2 separate regions of the Homo sapiens genome follow, and region 2 is linked to region 1. A link means that fine-mapping ties the variant in region 1 to the expression of a gene that starts in the linked region. Tissue or cell type: putamen. Region 1 holds a variant in brackets; the other region holds the start of a gene. All regions are shown on one strand. Distances are from middle to middle.

What was found. PIP is the estimated chance that this variant, and not a neighbour inherited with it, causes the effect.
Region 2: it holds the start of ODF1, and the variant in region 1 is fine-mapped to the expression of ODF1 in putamen (GTEx, PIP above 0.99).

The regions. Positions count from the first base shown.
Region 1 is chr8:102,576,085-102,584,187 of GRCh38, reverse strand. No RefSeq gene overlaps it. Among named protein-coding and RNA genes, the nearest start is that of ODF1, 29 kb to the right of the region's middle. RefSeq lists an enhancer at 64-563. The variant C/T (reference allele first, on the strand shown) is at 4,569.
Region 2 is chr8:102,547,239-102,555,341 of GRCh38, reverse strand. It overlaps ODF1 (outer dense fiber of sperm tails 1), which reads right to left and starts at 3,753. Exons shown (of 2, transcript NM_024410.4): 1 at 3,295-3,753. The coding sequence starts at 3,614. LOC124901998 (a long non-coding RNA gene) reads right to left here. Exons shown (of 3, transcript XR_007061039.1): 2 at 5,533-5,644; 3 at 4,746-4,835. LOC105375684 (a long non-coding RNA gene) reads left to right here and starts at 4,714. Exons shown (of 2, transcript XR_928478.3): 1 at 4,714-4,799. RefSeq lists an enhancer at 1-21.

The sequences.
Region 1 (8,103 bases):
TTTGCAATTCTTAGCTCAGGCCCAGTCCCAGAGATTGAAGCCTACAAGGAGCTGAGACACGGTGGGAGCAGGGAGGGAGGAGAAGGTGATCCAGGGACTTACCAGGATATGATATATCATCGTAGGTATGACTGAGTACATGCCTACTTTTGTCTGTGGAGGTTGACAGAATTATTTTATTTCATGCTCTCAAAACACAGCAAGACCACATCCTTTGCTATAGTTAAGAAAAGGAAGCCTCAGAGATGTTTGTTATTCATCCAAGGAGCAAGAAAATCTTTTTTTAGCCCCCTTTATAAACATATTTCCCAATTTTAAATATATATGTATTTTTAAGTGAATGAGAAGCAAAGAACTGGAGCATGTGGGGACTTCCTGTGGAGTTTTACTGAGAACTGTGGCTGAATGCAGCAAGGGGTTGAGGAAGGATTTGTCTTGTTTTGGTTTTGCTTGGTAAAGGAAGGAAGCATCAGGTTTTCATGCTGCTGGGAATGATCTAACAGAGAGAGAGAGCGAAAATGATGAGACAGGAGAGGGAGGGCAGTCTTAGGGCCTGTAGCTCTGGGAGAAGCAGAGGAGACAGAACAGAGGCCTTGGCAAGGCTGAGGGCATCAGGGGCCCCTTCATGTGAAGCCAGTGGAATGCAGGGGCTTGCAGGAAGCCAGCTTTTTCTTCCTCCCCACTGCCTTTTCACCCATGGTGTGGGCTGCTTCCTCTCTGGCTGAGTGAGGTCTTTTTTTTTTTTTTTTGAGACAGAGTCTTGCCGTGTCACCCAGGCTGGAGTGCAGTGGTGCAATCTCAGCTTACTGCAAGCTCCGCCTCCCGGGTTCACGCCATTCTCCTGCCTCAGCCTCCCGAGTAGCTGGGACTACAGGCGCCCACCACCATGCCCGGCTAATTTTTTGTATTTTTAGTAGAGACGGGGTTTCACCGTGTTAGCCACGTTGGTCTTGATCTCCTGACTTCGTGATCTGCCCGCCTTGGCCTCCCAAAGTGCTGGGATTACAGGCGTGAGCCACTGTGCCTGGCCCTGCCTCCCAGGTTCTAAGTGACAGCACCATGCCCGGCTAATTTTGTATTTTTAGTAGAGACAGGGTTTTACCATGTTGGCCAGACTGGTCTCGAACTCCTGACCTCAGGTGATCCACTCACCTCGGCCTCCCAAAGTGCTGGGATTACAGGCGTGAGCCACCGCACCGAGCCTTGTCCGTATGAGGTCTAGGGCAGATTCTACAGCTTTTCAGCTTATTTTGGGTAAAAACAAACAAACAAACAAACAAACAAAAAAGTCCAGTCCAGACTGACAAGGAAATCCCGAATCCTGGTTCAATTTGAAAGCTCTTCCCTCCTCAGCTTGGAACGGCCTTGTACACAGTGAAAGAGGAAATGTGGCTACCTCTCTCTCTCCCTTCGCTCCCCTCTCCCATCCACTAGCTGCTGGCTTGGGGTTGTGCGGGTGGAAGGGAGGTGGCTGACGGGCAGGAAAGGCGTTTCTTGAATCCCTACAGTCCTTACTTGGCATGGGGCAGATGCACCATCCCTGATTCTTCAAGAACCATTTGGGTGAGTGCTTCAGAGCCTCCCATCGCTGGGCATTGGCCCCCAGTTTCTTGCTCACAATCATACAAGTCAAGTGTGAGCCATGGGCCAGCAGCATTGCATCACTTGTTGGAATAGAGATGCCAGGTGCGGCGACATGTACCTGTAGTCCCAGCTACTGGGGAGGCTGAGGCAGAAGGATAGCTTGAGCCTAGAGTTCAAGACCAGTCTGGATGACATAGCAAGACCCTATCTCAAAATAAAAACAGCAAAGAAATGGAGACTCTTAGGCTCACCCACCCCTGTTGAGTGAGGATCTGCATTTCCACAAGCCCCCCAGGAGTGTGACGCACAGTCAGGTCTAAAGCTCTGCCTCACACTCCCAGAGCCAGAGCCTTACAGTCACACACAGGCAACTCAACTTACATAGCTCTGCATACAATGGAATAAAATAGAACCTTGTGAAAGACAGTGATAGTTAACATCCAGGCCGTGCAGCTCCCTAAGAAGACAGAGTCACCAAAAGGCAAAGGGCAAGTAAGGCTGACATCTGGAAGCCCAGGCCAGCCAGCAGCCCGCCTGCATCTTGAAGGGGTAAGATAGAAAAATATTTTTACATATTATATAATATTTTATTTAAAAAGTTGTAAAAAATACATAAATATAAAAAAGATAGTGATATTGACTGGGGGCTGGTGGCTCATGCCTGTAATCCCAACACTTTGGGAGGTGAGGTTGGAGGATCGTTTGAATCGAGAAGTTCAAGACCAACCTGGGCAGCATAGCGAGACCTCTTCTCTACAAAAAAAATACAACAGTTAGTGGGCGTGGTGGCACGTGCCTGTAGTCCCAGCTACTTGGGAGGTCGAGGTGGGAGAAACACTTGAGTGTCCCTCTTCACTGGGTCAAACAGCTCCAGAAAGCTCTTTCACCCATGTCCCTTTCAAGGGCCCCCAAATCCAGCCTCCTCCTGCCAGTGTCCACCTGGATCCTGGGAAACAGGCTTGCCCCTTGCCCTCTCACTCTCATCAGGCTCTGCTGCCTGACGGAGTCACCCCGAGGCAGAACCTCTCCCTTTTAGAGTTTCCCAGGGAGACAGGTACCAGCCCTGTTCCTCCAAACCTCAGGGAACACACTTCAGATACTCTATGTGTTCTCTCAACACTTCCCGCACTAGTTGAGGTGATGTGGAAGCACTCCTTCCAGCCCAGTGGGGTGTGGGATGGGTGAGATGGGGCAGGAGTAGCCTGGCTCAGCAGACCCACATCTCTTTTCAAAGAAATCCTTACTACTGGCTGCTTCTATGGCCCAGGGAAGCCATAGCCTTCTCATGCCTCAGCCATAGAGGATGAGACGATTTCACAGCCTCTCAGAGTCTTGCCTAGGTGCTTGTTTTGGTTATTGATTGCTGTGTACCAAACTACCCCAGTCTCAGTGCTTAAAACAACAAACATTTACAGCTGGGTATGGTGGCGCCTGCCTGAAGTGCCAGCTATTTGGGAAGCTGAGGTGGGAGGATCACTTGAGCCCAGGGTTTCGAGGCTAGCCTGGGCAACATAGCCAGACCCTGTCTCTTAAAAAAAAAAAAAATTAACATAAAAATGGCAAACTTGTATTATCTCTCAGTTCCTGTGTGCTATGAACTGAATTGTGCCCCCTCCCAGATTCCTATACTAAAGCCCTAACCCTCCAGAACCTTAGAAAGTGATTGTATTTGGGGATTCTGCCTTGAAAGAGGTGATTAAGGTTAAATCAGGTCATAAGGGTAGGCCTCTAATCCAATAGGACTGGTGTCCTTATAAGAAGATAAGGAGACATCAGGAATGCGCATGGAGAAAAGCCCACATGAGGACACAGCAAGAAGACAGCCACCCGCCAGCCAAGCAGAGAGGCCCCAGGAGACACCAAACTCCCTGACACCTTCATCTTGGAACCCAGCCTACAGAACTGTGAGAAAACAGCCAGGCACGGTGGCTCATGCCTGTAATCCCAGCACTTTGGGAGGCCAAGCTGGGTGGATCATGAGGTCAGGAGTTCAAGACCGGCCTGGCCAAGATGGTGAAACCCCGTCTCTACTAAAAATACAAAAATTAGCCAGGCGTGGTGGTGGGTGCTTGTAATCCCAGCTACACTGGAGGCTTAGGCAGAGAATTGCTTGAACCCGGGAGGCAGAGGTTGCAGTGAGCCGAGATCACGCCACTGCACTCCAGCCAGGGCAACAGAGCAAGACTCCGTCTCAAAAAAAAAAAAAAATGTACTGTGAGAAAATAAAGGTCTGGCACTTTGGGAGGCCAAGGCAGGTGGATTGCTTCAGAATAAGAGTTTGAGATCAGCCTGACCAACATGGTGAAACCCCATCTCTACTAAAAATACAAAAAATTAGCTGGGCATGGTGGCGTGCACCTGTAGTCCCAGCTACCTGGGAGGTTGAGGCAGGAGAATTGCTTTAACCCAGGAGGCAGAGGTTGCAGTGAGCCAAGATCACACCACTTCACTCTAGCCTGGGTGACAGAGCCAGACTGTCTCAAAAAGAAAAGAAAAGAAAAGAAATGTCTTTTGTTTAAGCCACCAAGTCTGTGGTATTTTGTTATGGCAGCCCTAGCAAAGGAATACACTGTGGGGCAGCAAAGCAATCCAGGCACAGCTGATCTGGGCACCTTAGGCTCAGGCTCTCCCAAAGCTGCAATCGCAATGTCTCCTGGGCTGCAATCATCTCAAGGCTCCATGGGGAAAGGATCTTCTTCCAAGCTCTCTCTCGTGGCTGTGGGCAGGCCTCAGGTCCTCACTGACTGTTGGCTGGAGACATCAGCCCTTTGCCATGTGGGCATCTCCATAGGGCAGTTCACAGCATGGCAGCCAGCTGCTCTTGGGGAGAGTGAGGAGTGGGGTGAGGGGGGTCCTAACAGAAGCACAGTCTTTTTATAACCTAATCTCATAGTGGCATCCATCACTTTTGCAATATGCTGTTTATTAGAAGTGAATCAGGCCGGCGAGGTGGCTCACGCCTGTAATCCCAGCACTTTGGGAGG[C/T]CTAGGTAGGTGGATCTCAAGGTCAGGAGTTCGAGACCAGCCTGGCGAATATGGTGAAACCCCATCTCTACAAAAAACACAAAAATTAGCCAGGTGTGGTGGTGGTGGGTGCCTGTAGTCCCAGCTACTTGGGAGGCTAAGGCAAGAGAATTGCTTGAACCCAGGAGGTGGAGGTTGCAGTGAGTCAAGATAGTACCACTGCACTCCAGCCTGGATAACAGAGTGAGACTCCATCTCAAAAAAAAAAAAAAAAAAAAGAAGTGAGTCATGAACCCAGCCCATACTCAAGGGCGGGAAATCACACAAATGCATGAATACCAGGAGGGGAGGAGCACTGGGAGCTGTCTCAGGGGCTGCCTACTGCGGTGGCCCCGCACTCCACTTCAGGGGTACTTAGCACCTATGGCATTTTTTTGTGACAGGAGAGAAGACAGAGAGTGTGGGTACATATCCTGGTGGATTTGGTGGCAGGAGGATAAGAAAATGTCTGAGTGGTTCTACCTTCTAGTAAAGTGTGAAGTGTGGTCTTTGGCTAGAACTGGGGATCATGGAGGGACTGACAAAGATGGCCGGTGGGACAGCAAAGACTCCTGTTCCCTCACATTCCCCTCGTACATTACAGAGTTGCCCAGCCGGGAACTATGTTTCCCACACTCCCCAGTGTTGAGGTGGGACCATGTGACTAGTTCTTGCCCACAGACTGGGAGTAGAGCAATTTGTGGCATTTCCTGGCTAGGGAACTAAGAAGCAGGTATGTCTTTTTCTGTCTTCTCTTTATTATACCAAACTCCTGGGTACAGAGAATTCAAGGATCTTGGAGGGAAGGGCCACAAAATAAAAGGCCCCTGGGCCCCTGAAAGCCACCTGCCAACCAAGAATACCTGTGCTGGACTTTTTATGTGAGCAAGAATCAAACATTTATTTTTCAAGCCACGGGAAATTTGGGATTTGATTGGTGCAACAGATAGTATTTTCCTAATAAATCCAGGATTGTAGGTTTGAGGCTTGAGAAGCCATGTGAAATGCCTGATGAGTAGGCATAGAGGGAGCACATGCCAATCATGGAACAGCCCACCCTCTGAAGAGCCTCACTGGCCTGGACAGGACACCAGACAAGGGCGACCCACTGCATGTAGCTCCATAGCCAGAGATGGGTAGATGAGGGCAGAGCTGCACACAATGGGTGCAGGCCAAAAGACTTCTTACCCCAAGACCCTTAAACGACCCTAAGAGGAGCATGCCTTGACAAATGCCTGAAATTGGACTTCCCACCGCACACACACAGAACAAGTTTGAAATGGCTGTGGCTTGTACTCCATAAATGCCAATCAAATTTAGTCTCCAAGCCTCCACCCTTCCAAGTTGGTGGGAGGTCAGTTCCAAGCATTATTGGTGCTCCCTCTGCCTCCTCAATGTTGCATGGTACCCAGGAGGCCAACACAGTGCCCCAAATGAGGAAAGGCCTATAATCTTCAATTCAGGAGGAGCAATCAGGGTCCTCTGCAGTCCTGCTATATACTCTGGACCATGTTAAGAACAGGGTCAGGTCCTCTACCTACTTGAGGAAGCCACCAGCCTCAGGAATCTCCCTCTACCCCTTTCTATGGCCCAGGATCCTCTTTGTCCCTCTCAATCACCACCCTTTTCCCCTTGAGCAATTCATACTTCTGAAAAAGCCAGAAGGGCAGGTATATGAGGACGGCTTCTGCTTTCTACTTCAGCAACACAAACCTCCCCGGAGGCAGAGGGTGAGGGTTGTGAAATTCAGGGAGAGCCAAACACAAATGACTATCTCACTGATCCTGTTCCAGGGATAATAATAGCATCAACCTCTGAGGGCTACTGTAAGGATGAGAAAAGAGAAAGCATGCCACACTGACAGTTTCGGCCTGGCATAGAGCTAGTTCTTGGTCATGGTTACCCGTGGAAAACCTTTTCAAGTGGATGACCTTTGTCCTTCCATGTTTCTTCCATCACAAGAAAGAAGTTTCGGGAAAGTTTCAGGCAAGTCCTAGAAAAATTTAAAATTCCTTCCAGTTAGTTACTGTCCTCACCCAATGAAGAAGTGCCACTTAGGGCATGGTGTCTTATGCCTGTAATCCCAGCACTTTGAGAGGCTGAGAAGAGAGGACCTCTTGAGGCCAGGAGGTCGGGGCTGCAGAGAGCTGTGATCACGCCACTGCAATCCAGGTGTGGACGACAGAACGAGACCTTGTCTCAAAACAAACAAACAAACAAACAAAAAACCCCAACCCCCGCACTCCTCACCCCCCTAAAAAAAAACCCAGCGCCACCACCACTCCATGAGAGATGTCATCCAGGAGCAGACATTAGGCTTAGTTTATAAACACTTGGCAAAACTGTGGCGGCCGTAAGGAAGCATCCCTCTCCTCCAACTGCAGGGAGCGGCATTGACCCACTACCCCAGCTGCCCTGCCGAAATCCCTCGCCTGTTCACACCGACGCCATGCCTCCCATAGGCTACTTCCGGCCAATGACAGGGCTCGGCAGGGGTTTGGGAGCGGGCCTATTGTTGGGGGCGTGGCCCCCTCTGACAGGTGTCTGGCTGGAGAACTCCCTGACAGCCGCGCCAACCCTGCCCTAGGCTGCGGGGCCTGCCTTTCCTCCCTCTGTCCTTCACTGGGCATCAGATCTGGCCTGGAGCCACGCTCTCTCAGCGTGTCTTCTGGCTCCCTCCCAGGCTTCTCTCACAGATGTTTCTCCTAATTTCTTGCCTATTTCGTCTTGTCTTGCATCTGCTTCTGGGAAGACCCGGCCAACTCTGCCCTTTCAATGGGCTCATTTTTCATAGCTTGTCATTTAGATAGCAAATATTAGTTCAACTCACTTCCTGTATTTAAGCTGTGAAATGCAACATATAAGGATAAATGTTTTAAGTATAACTGTTAAGACTTCTCCCTAACGGAAAGCGTTAACTCTTGTTTTAACTGCAGTGTAACTTTTTTTTCCCCTGAATCTGGCACCTGCTACCATTCAGGCTGAGCTTTTAAACTCTCAAGTGGCTGTTGAGTTCCGTTATGGCTCTTAATTCTCCCTAGAAACTCTGAACTACTTAGGAACAAAACAGCAGTGGCATTAAAAAAAATACATCAGCAATGTAATGACATTAAAAGGAATCTGGAAGATACAGGAAGATAATTCCCATAATACCATTGTTCTAACACAACAGCTGCCATTTCGGGGGCGCATTCATGTCCATCCCCTCTCACTTCCTGCTCTTTCCAGAACCCCTTTTTTTCTAGAGGGTTATTTGCAGACCTGCCTGTGTTAGGCATGGGCCACCAGCTCTCAGCCCTAGACGCACATCAGAATCACTTAAAAATCACTGAGGGCTGGCCCTGAGCTGGATCTTCTCTAAACTGCATCTTTTCTTCCTTTTTAGAGTCCAGATGCAGAATTGACTTGATCAGACCTGTCAGTACATAGCACCTTACCATCACCAGTGCATTCCTAGTGCCCATCTTTTTATTTTATGTATTATTTTTGACCTCTTCATCCTTCCACTCCCAGCCCC
Region 2 (8,103 bases), 29 kb after region 1:
CCCATGAATTAGATCATAAACTCCTAGGGCAAGATTGAGGAGGGCCTGGGTTTTGTTTCTCCGGCTCTAAGACAGAGGGCAGGGAAGCCCATGAAATGTGGTGGTGAATCAGTTACAACTTAAATCAGGCTGGTGGCATGGCTTCCGACAAAGGAAACCAATGCAGTCCCCTCAGCCCCTCTAAATCCAGAAGAGGGAGGAAGAGACAGGGACACTGCCTGCCTCTTGGGGAGGAAAAGAGGATATCAAAGAAGCTACAGAAACAAAGGTGCTTACTTGGGTCTCTACTAAGGAAGACACTGCCAACATGGTGTCTTCTGAAGCAGCTGCCCAATAAAGAATGGAAATGGATTGGATTTTCTTTTATTTATTTATTTATTTTTTGAAACAGGGTCTCTTTCTATTGTCCAGGCTGGAGTGTAGTGGCATAATCATGGCTTACCGCAGTCCTGACCTCCCAGGCTCAAGCAGTCCTCCCACCTCAGCCTCCTGAGTACCTGGGACCACAAGCATGTGCCACCACACTTGGTTAATTTTTTTATTTTAATTTTTATAGAGATGGGGACTCCCTGTGTTGCTCAGGCTGGTCCCAAACTCCCGGACTTGAGCAATTCTCCTATTACAGCCTCCCAAAGTGCTGAGATTACAGGTGTGAACCACTGCACCCAGCTTGGATTGGATTTTCTATGCCCAGTCTAAGAAAACACCACACACATGCATCAATCAAATAACATATAGTCAGGAGTGCTCAAGAAACCTGTGGGATCAATTAAGAAATTGTTGGTTGAGGCTTTTTACCAGTTATTAAAGGAGGACCCAGAGACACAGCAGATTGACTGTGACACAGAAAAACAGTTTCAAGGGGGCCAAGGCAACTATAGACTATAGAGTCTTTACTTCATATTGGGCAAAGAACCTTCTGGACAACACAGCCTGCCATCTGAAAGGATATGTCATAACTAACCAACCCCCTTGCATTCTTTAAAGGGGAGGAAGGTCATGTGAATATGAATTCTAAACTCAAAAAGCCTTGGGCAAGCTTTCACACCAAAGATTGTTTTAAAAAATTGAATCAACATGATATTTCTGCATCTATTTAGTTATGGATCAGGCGCTAGCTTAGAGATAAGAATAAAAGGCACTGCACTAGAAGAAAAAATACTACACTGGGGGCCTTCTGGGACTGAGGCTAGAATCAGGGTTTAACATTTTCACCCATATTCAGGAAAATTGAATATTTAGGTTTGCAAGTGACACTAAGCCCTTCTGGAGAGTGAAATGTCAAGTTGTCAGAAATAGAGCATAGAAATTTCACAAGGTGGTGTGAATTGGAAGAGATAAAGCGGACAAGCCTGAGGTCATTTCTACAATGGACTTGGAGTTATCATTTCCGAGATCCAGAAATTAATGTAAAGACATCACCAGCTTCACATATTGCCTGCAGGCAGAGAAAAAATAGGCAAAGACCCAGACGCTGTCAGGAAGAGCATCACAAACCAGAGAAAACATTACCTCTTGCCTAAACTACACTGCCGAGAATTAAGCTTGAAGCTGTTTCTACTGCATGCCAAGAAACAAGGCTTCTGAAAGAGGCATCAAGAGAGTAGACAGCACAGGACAGAGAGGGATTTTAATTGGTAGAGTCTGGGGATAGGAGAGAAGCCAGGAAGACAGAGGCTGGAAAGACCTGGACAAGGGTATTCAAGTATCCAAAAGTAGGAGGAGAGTGGATACTGATCTGCTCACAAGGAAACCTTAACTTGGACCAAATATTTTAAAAAGAGTCCCTGCCTCACAGTGTGAGCAATTTATGTGACTTGATGCCCTAAGAAATAAAAACAAACATTGGTTCAAAGAGTATAGATGAATTTACAGGTGAAAGCTCCCAGGCTATGAGGGAGGTTCATTCCTGACCATTGGTGGCTGGTGACCTAGACAATAATTATCCTTTTTTTTTTTTTTTTTTTGAGACAGTCTCACTTTGTCACCCGGTCTGGAGTGTAGTGGTGCAATCTTGGCTCACTGCAACCTCTGCCTCCTGGGTTCAAGTGATTCTCCTGCCTCAGTCTCACGAGTAGCTGGGATTACAGGCACGTGCCACTACGCTTGGCTAATTTTTTTTTTTTTTTTTTTTTGTATTTAGTAGAGATGGGGTTTCACCATGTTAGCCAGGCTGGTCTCGAACTCTTGAGCTCAGGTGATCTGCCCGCCTCCGCCTCCCAAAGTGCTGGGATTACTGGCATGAGCCAATGCACCCGGCCTCCTATTGCTTTTTCCAAAGAAACATCACTGTCACTGTTGTCAAGAGACTCTATCTATCTATCATCTATCTATCTATCTATCTATCTATCTATCTATCTATCTGTCATCTGTCTATCAGTTTTTCTGCACTTTGCTTGTTTGACTTAATACATCAATATGTAAGATGCTTCATCAATCCTTTCTATATTTACTTATTATTCCAGTGCATGAATGTATTATTTATTTAACCAGGGACAGCACTTTCAACCATCTTTTTCATCAACAGTAACAGACTAAATGGCATATGTAAAAAGTTAGAAAAGGAAAGTTTTCTCCAGGCAAAAAGAAAATATAATCTAAAACAAAAATTTTTTTAAAAAACTGACTCTTTTTAATTACCCAATTCAATTAAAAAGCCTTTCAAGTCTATCCTGAAAGCTACAACTCAGTGCCATAGTTTATTTGCAAGACCTTTGCTAGAGTTAGAGGGGAGGCCAACATGATAGACCTAATTCCAGATACAAGGTAAGTCTTTGCCTGGAGTGGGGGGATAGGAGAATGATATTCCCACAAAACCAAGGCAATGCCTCTACTGTTCAATTTGCTCTCCTGCTTGTAAAGCCTCTGGCACACATTAAGGATTTGATCTATTATTATTACTTCTCCTGTAGTCATTTCTGTAAGTCCAAATATACTCAAATCACTTTACTCATAACCAGGAAAAATGTTTAGTTTGCTGCTTCCAATGGCTTTTTAATGACACCCCCTGTTTCTTCCCTTCATTAAAGCCGCATTATTTATCATACTGGCATTCTTGCTATAAACCACCGACGACCTTGCCAATCGACATCATTACATTGTCTTTTGAGAACCCTACAATTCCCATCATGGACTCATTTACTCTTCTTTCCTTAAATCTTTCCTAAGTCACCAGGGTCATTATCCTGAACCCTTTTAATCTTTGTTCAACTATTGATTGTCACATATTTTTCCTTATTCCAACTTATAAGGCTAATATACCGACTATAAAAATTTAAAAATAAGTTATTTTACTTGGCAAGCTCTCGCTTCTCATCTTCTATGGCTCTGATGGCTTTCCTCTCCAAACTTCTGAGAGATGGTCGCAGACAGTAAAGCTTATAATCACACAGGCAACATGGGTAGAGATCACACAGGCCGCAAGAGCGTGATCGCTTGGAATAGCACAAGCAGTACGGATATGGGTGCAAGTCACAGCAGCAATAGGGGTGCATATACAAGTCGCACAGGCACCGTGTGCTAAATTCGTCGATGCATCTCAGTTGCCTTAGTTCTCTGTCCACCTTCTTTATGTCCCTTCTGACACTGTCCAAGAGACAACTCAGTGCAGCCATTATGGTCACACCTGATTGTTCTGTGAGTACCTTTGGGAAATGGCACTCCGGGAAAAAATTTGTTCTAAGCCCTTCTCAGAAGTTGCTTTTAAAAATAAATGAGGCACACATGATTCACTTACTTTAAAGCTTGTGTTCTATGACCTCACCACCTTCTGAAGTATGTCATAGTCTTCTGGTTACCATGTGAACTGTACACAGTCATGGTCTCCAGAGACCATCCTCAGAGTTACAGAGCTACTCTCAGAACCATACTCGTGTTGAGATTTCACTCACCTTCAAGGAGGATGGGTCTCCCAAGCGAGCATAGCTCATCGGGGTGCATGGGGCTGGCCACTAACATCCTTGCCTTGTGTGTGCTCTGGGGACCAGCCATGGCTATGACTGTGTGTTTGTTGAACTTGGTGCAGGCGAAGGCAGGAGCTGCCCACGCCTTTCTCCATGACCTTCTAGCTCTAGCCTTGATTGGAAGCTTGGCCTTGCTCCTTTTGTTCTAGAATTCATTCTGTCTCCAGACAGGTAGAATATAAAGAATGTTCTCATCATTCTCCTCCTACCAAGTCATCCTCAAGTCAGCCATTGTCCTTGACCTTCTGAGTTACAAGTCTCTGAGTCCTGCCCATTCTGCGCCAGCTGTGGTCATGGCTGTTCGGGAACCTCATTTCTCTACTGGTTGGGGGTCCTGTCCTTAAGCTCCCATCTGTCAGTCCTCGGGGGCCTGTCCTGGGGAACTACCTCCCATCAACTACACCTTTGGTCTTGCATCCAAGCCTCCGGATGTCTTGTCCCTGAGTGCTTCCCAAATGTTGGTCTTTGATGTTCTTGTAGCCAACCGCCTGAAGATGCTGGAAGCCAACTGCCTGAAACCCCCGCTTCGGCCAGTTTCCTTTACTTTCTGTTCAGTTAACATCCTAGACCTCTGATTCGGCCTCAGATTTGGCTCTCGGTGCCTCTACTCCTCTGGTCCTTTCACCTCAAACTGCGGTCCAGCTCTCGAGTCTCCCTTGTATGAACTAGAGCTCAGGTATTGATGACAAGTGGTTGGATGTGACACTGGTGAGGGAGACAAGGGCCAGGTTTGAAGGGACCTGTAGCCAGACTAAGGACTCTGAACTTTATTTTGAGCCCAACGAAGGATTGTTGATTTTCTTTTCTTTTGTCAGAAGTGAGACAGCCACACTGAAGGTAAGTTGCTAGGGACAATAGTAGTGGGGTTTTCTGCTGCAAGACAAGAAGAGACAACAAAAATCTGGACTGGGGATCATGGCTATGGGGATGGCAAGGAGGAAGCCAATGGGAAAGCCTTCCCCCACCTCTGCCCAGGCCCCATCTAATCCATTTTCCACATTGTAGCCACAGCGACTTTCATATAGAAATCTGTCATTCCTCAACCTTCCCCACCCATCATCCCACTCACCTTAAAAGTCTTCTCTGTCCTCTCAAAAAAAGGACCAAAATCTTTACCAGGTGCTGAGCAATGGGGCCTCTCCCACTTCCCCACTCTCCTCTCCCATCCTAGTATTATTGCAATTCATTACCCCTCAGCCACGATGGCCTTCCTGGAAGACCACTCACTTTCCAGAGGCCGTTCCTTAGTCCCTTGAAGGACATTCCTCATTCCTTCCACCTCATTCAGAGCTCATACACAGGACGTTCTGCCTGCTTAGAAATTGAACTCCCCACCTATGACTTTCATCCATTTAATTCTTAAGGCACCCTTTAGATCTCCCCCTTTCTTGGGGAAGCCTTCTCTGTCTCCCAGACTAAACACTCTCTTAACTTAGGATACATTTCCTTCATGATATTGTTTCCCCAGCTGGACTGTAAGCCACGAGGGCAAGGACCTTGTCTATTTTTGCTTCGCAGTAGATACCTAACACAATGCCTGGCACATAGCAGGTGCTTGAAATGTACTCACTGAATGACCATCTGGGTGAATTCAACAGGATTTAGTGAACAGAGTGAGGATGGAGTGAGGGAGGAATCAGTGGTGACTTCCAGCTTTCAAGCTTGGCAGACTCTTGGTGCCACTGAGATAAAAATAACACAGGGAGAAGAGTAAGTTTGGGGATTTGGTGAACAGGTGGTGCTGGTGACAACTTTAAGGTAGAAATCTGGAGTATTCTGTGGATAAGAGGGTCTGGAATTTGAGGAAAGCCTGGGCTAGAGATATAAATTAGGAAGCCACAATTCCATAGGTAGTTGGAACCCTGGAAACAGGCAAGATAATTCAGAATTTAAAAAGAGAGCTGAAGCCGACTCCCAGGGAAAAATAAGTAGAAATGAGGAGAGTGAAGGAGTCCATGAAAGGCTCATAGAAGGAGTAACAGAGGGCGACAGCCCCCTCAGCTGGAGTCCCTTGGGAGTCACTAGACCAAGCATGGCATTCCCAATGGCTCGATGTTCCCCAGCCTTGACTTAGGAGGCCCTTTTCTGTGCAGATAATGTGTCTTAGCAAACAAGTGTCCCTAGAGGCATTAGAATGAGAGGCTGGCCCCTTGAGTCACGTGGAATGAGTCAAAAAGCAAAGCTGAATGATTCTCCTCTATGGACAAATTCTGACCTCTTTAAAAGTGATTCCACTGTGATTTGATTCTGAGGGGTGGACCCTATTAATAGAAATATGGCCTACTCTTTCCTGAGAGTTAATTGCAGGAGTTGTACAGATTTCTCTAGCTCCAGGTGACAGAGAATTCTTATATCACCTTGAATTCTATCCCTTAGCAAATGTCAGCAAAGATTGAAGCAGGCAAGCTCTCAGTTTAATATTATTATATACACAAGTTCAGGTGCCTAAATACACACATCTGTGTATACATGGTACATTATTAAGATGGGTATAGCTATATTTCAACTAGGATTCTCCCATTATCCCACCTTCCTAGTGATTTTTCTTTTTTTATTTTGAGACAGGGTCTTACTCTGTCACCCAGGCTGGAGCACAGTGGCATGTGCTCTCTGCAGCCTTGACCTCCTGAGCTCAGGTGAGCCTCCCACCTCAGCCTCCCCAGTAGCTGGGGCTATAGCCATGCACTACCATGCCTGCCTAACTTTTGTATTTTTTGTAGAAATGGGGTCTCACCATGTTGCCCAGCCTGGTCTCAAACTCCTGGGCTCAAGCCATCTGCTCACCTTGGCCTCCCAAAGTGCTGGGATTACAGGCATGAGTCACCACTCCTGTCCCTTCCTAGTGATTTTACTCTTCATCATGAAGTATATTCTTATCATTTTAAGTGACTAAATAAAGGTAGTGTCTTCTTTAATGATGAGATGGAAATGTGATCTATTCATATCAGAAGGATTTTAATATGGATTCTAATATGGAACTAGGACCTTCCGTATGCAGGACTATGTCCATGGAATCTCTCATTCACCTTGGCTGGTGTCCGGATAGAACCTCCTCTGGATGGAAGGCAGGTCTTGACACTTTCCCAAGTTGGGCAACACTTGCTTGGTCCCCAATGTTGGTGAAATCATGAGCCAAAGAAGGTCCCCTCTGCCTCTTCCAGCAGGTAGCACAGCTACAGCTCAAGTCTCGTCACCAGACCAATGTTACAAAGACACTTTTCTAACAGTTGTTAGGTCAGTACACAGTGCTTAAACATCAAATATGAAAGTATACACACAGTGTGACCTGAACTCTGTAAAAAAGAATCCATAGGCTAGGTGTGGTGGCTCACACCTGTAATTCCAGCACTTTGGGAGACCGAGGTGGGGAGAATCACTTGAGGCCAGGAGTTTGGGACCAGCTTGGGCAACATAGTGAGACCCCATCTTCTACAAAAATATTTAAAAATTAGCCAGGTATGGTGGCACATGCCTATGGTCCCAGCTACTCAGGAAAATGAGGAGGGAGGATCATTTGAGCCCAGAGGCTCTAGGCTACATTGAGTTATGATTGCACCTCTGCACTCCAGCCTGGGCAATAGGGTGAGACCCTGTCACAAAAAAAAAAAAAAAAAAAAGGAGAGAAACACCCTGAAAAATTAGCTGTGGTTAACTCTGGCTAGTAGAATCATAGATGGCTTTTAAAATTATTTTTTCTAGACTTTTCTGTGATTTCCAAATTTCTTCTATGAGGATATCACCAGTTTTATAATGAAACACTTTCTGATATTGTACTCTCAAGAAATCAGCTGTGTACTGAATCGCTAAGCCCACCTTTGGCCCCTGCCATCCCCCTAAGCAGGCCATTGGGGAAGTCTCCCTGGAATGGACATCTGGAATTTGGTCTGTCCATCATCCATGGCATCTTCTTTTGGTAAAATAACTTTCTCCGCTCCCCACTCCCACCCTCCACCATTAAGTGCTGCCAGTAAGTTGCCTAGCCAAAGGGCAGGCATGAAACCAAAGCTGGCTGATCTGACTGTCTTCTGGGAATTTGATCTTTAGCAGAGAGACATAAAGCCTGAAGACAGTTGGAGCTGATTCATTCTGACAGTGCACCCTAGGAGACTACACCTTAGTTACTGCCCTGTTCCATAATTTT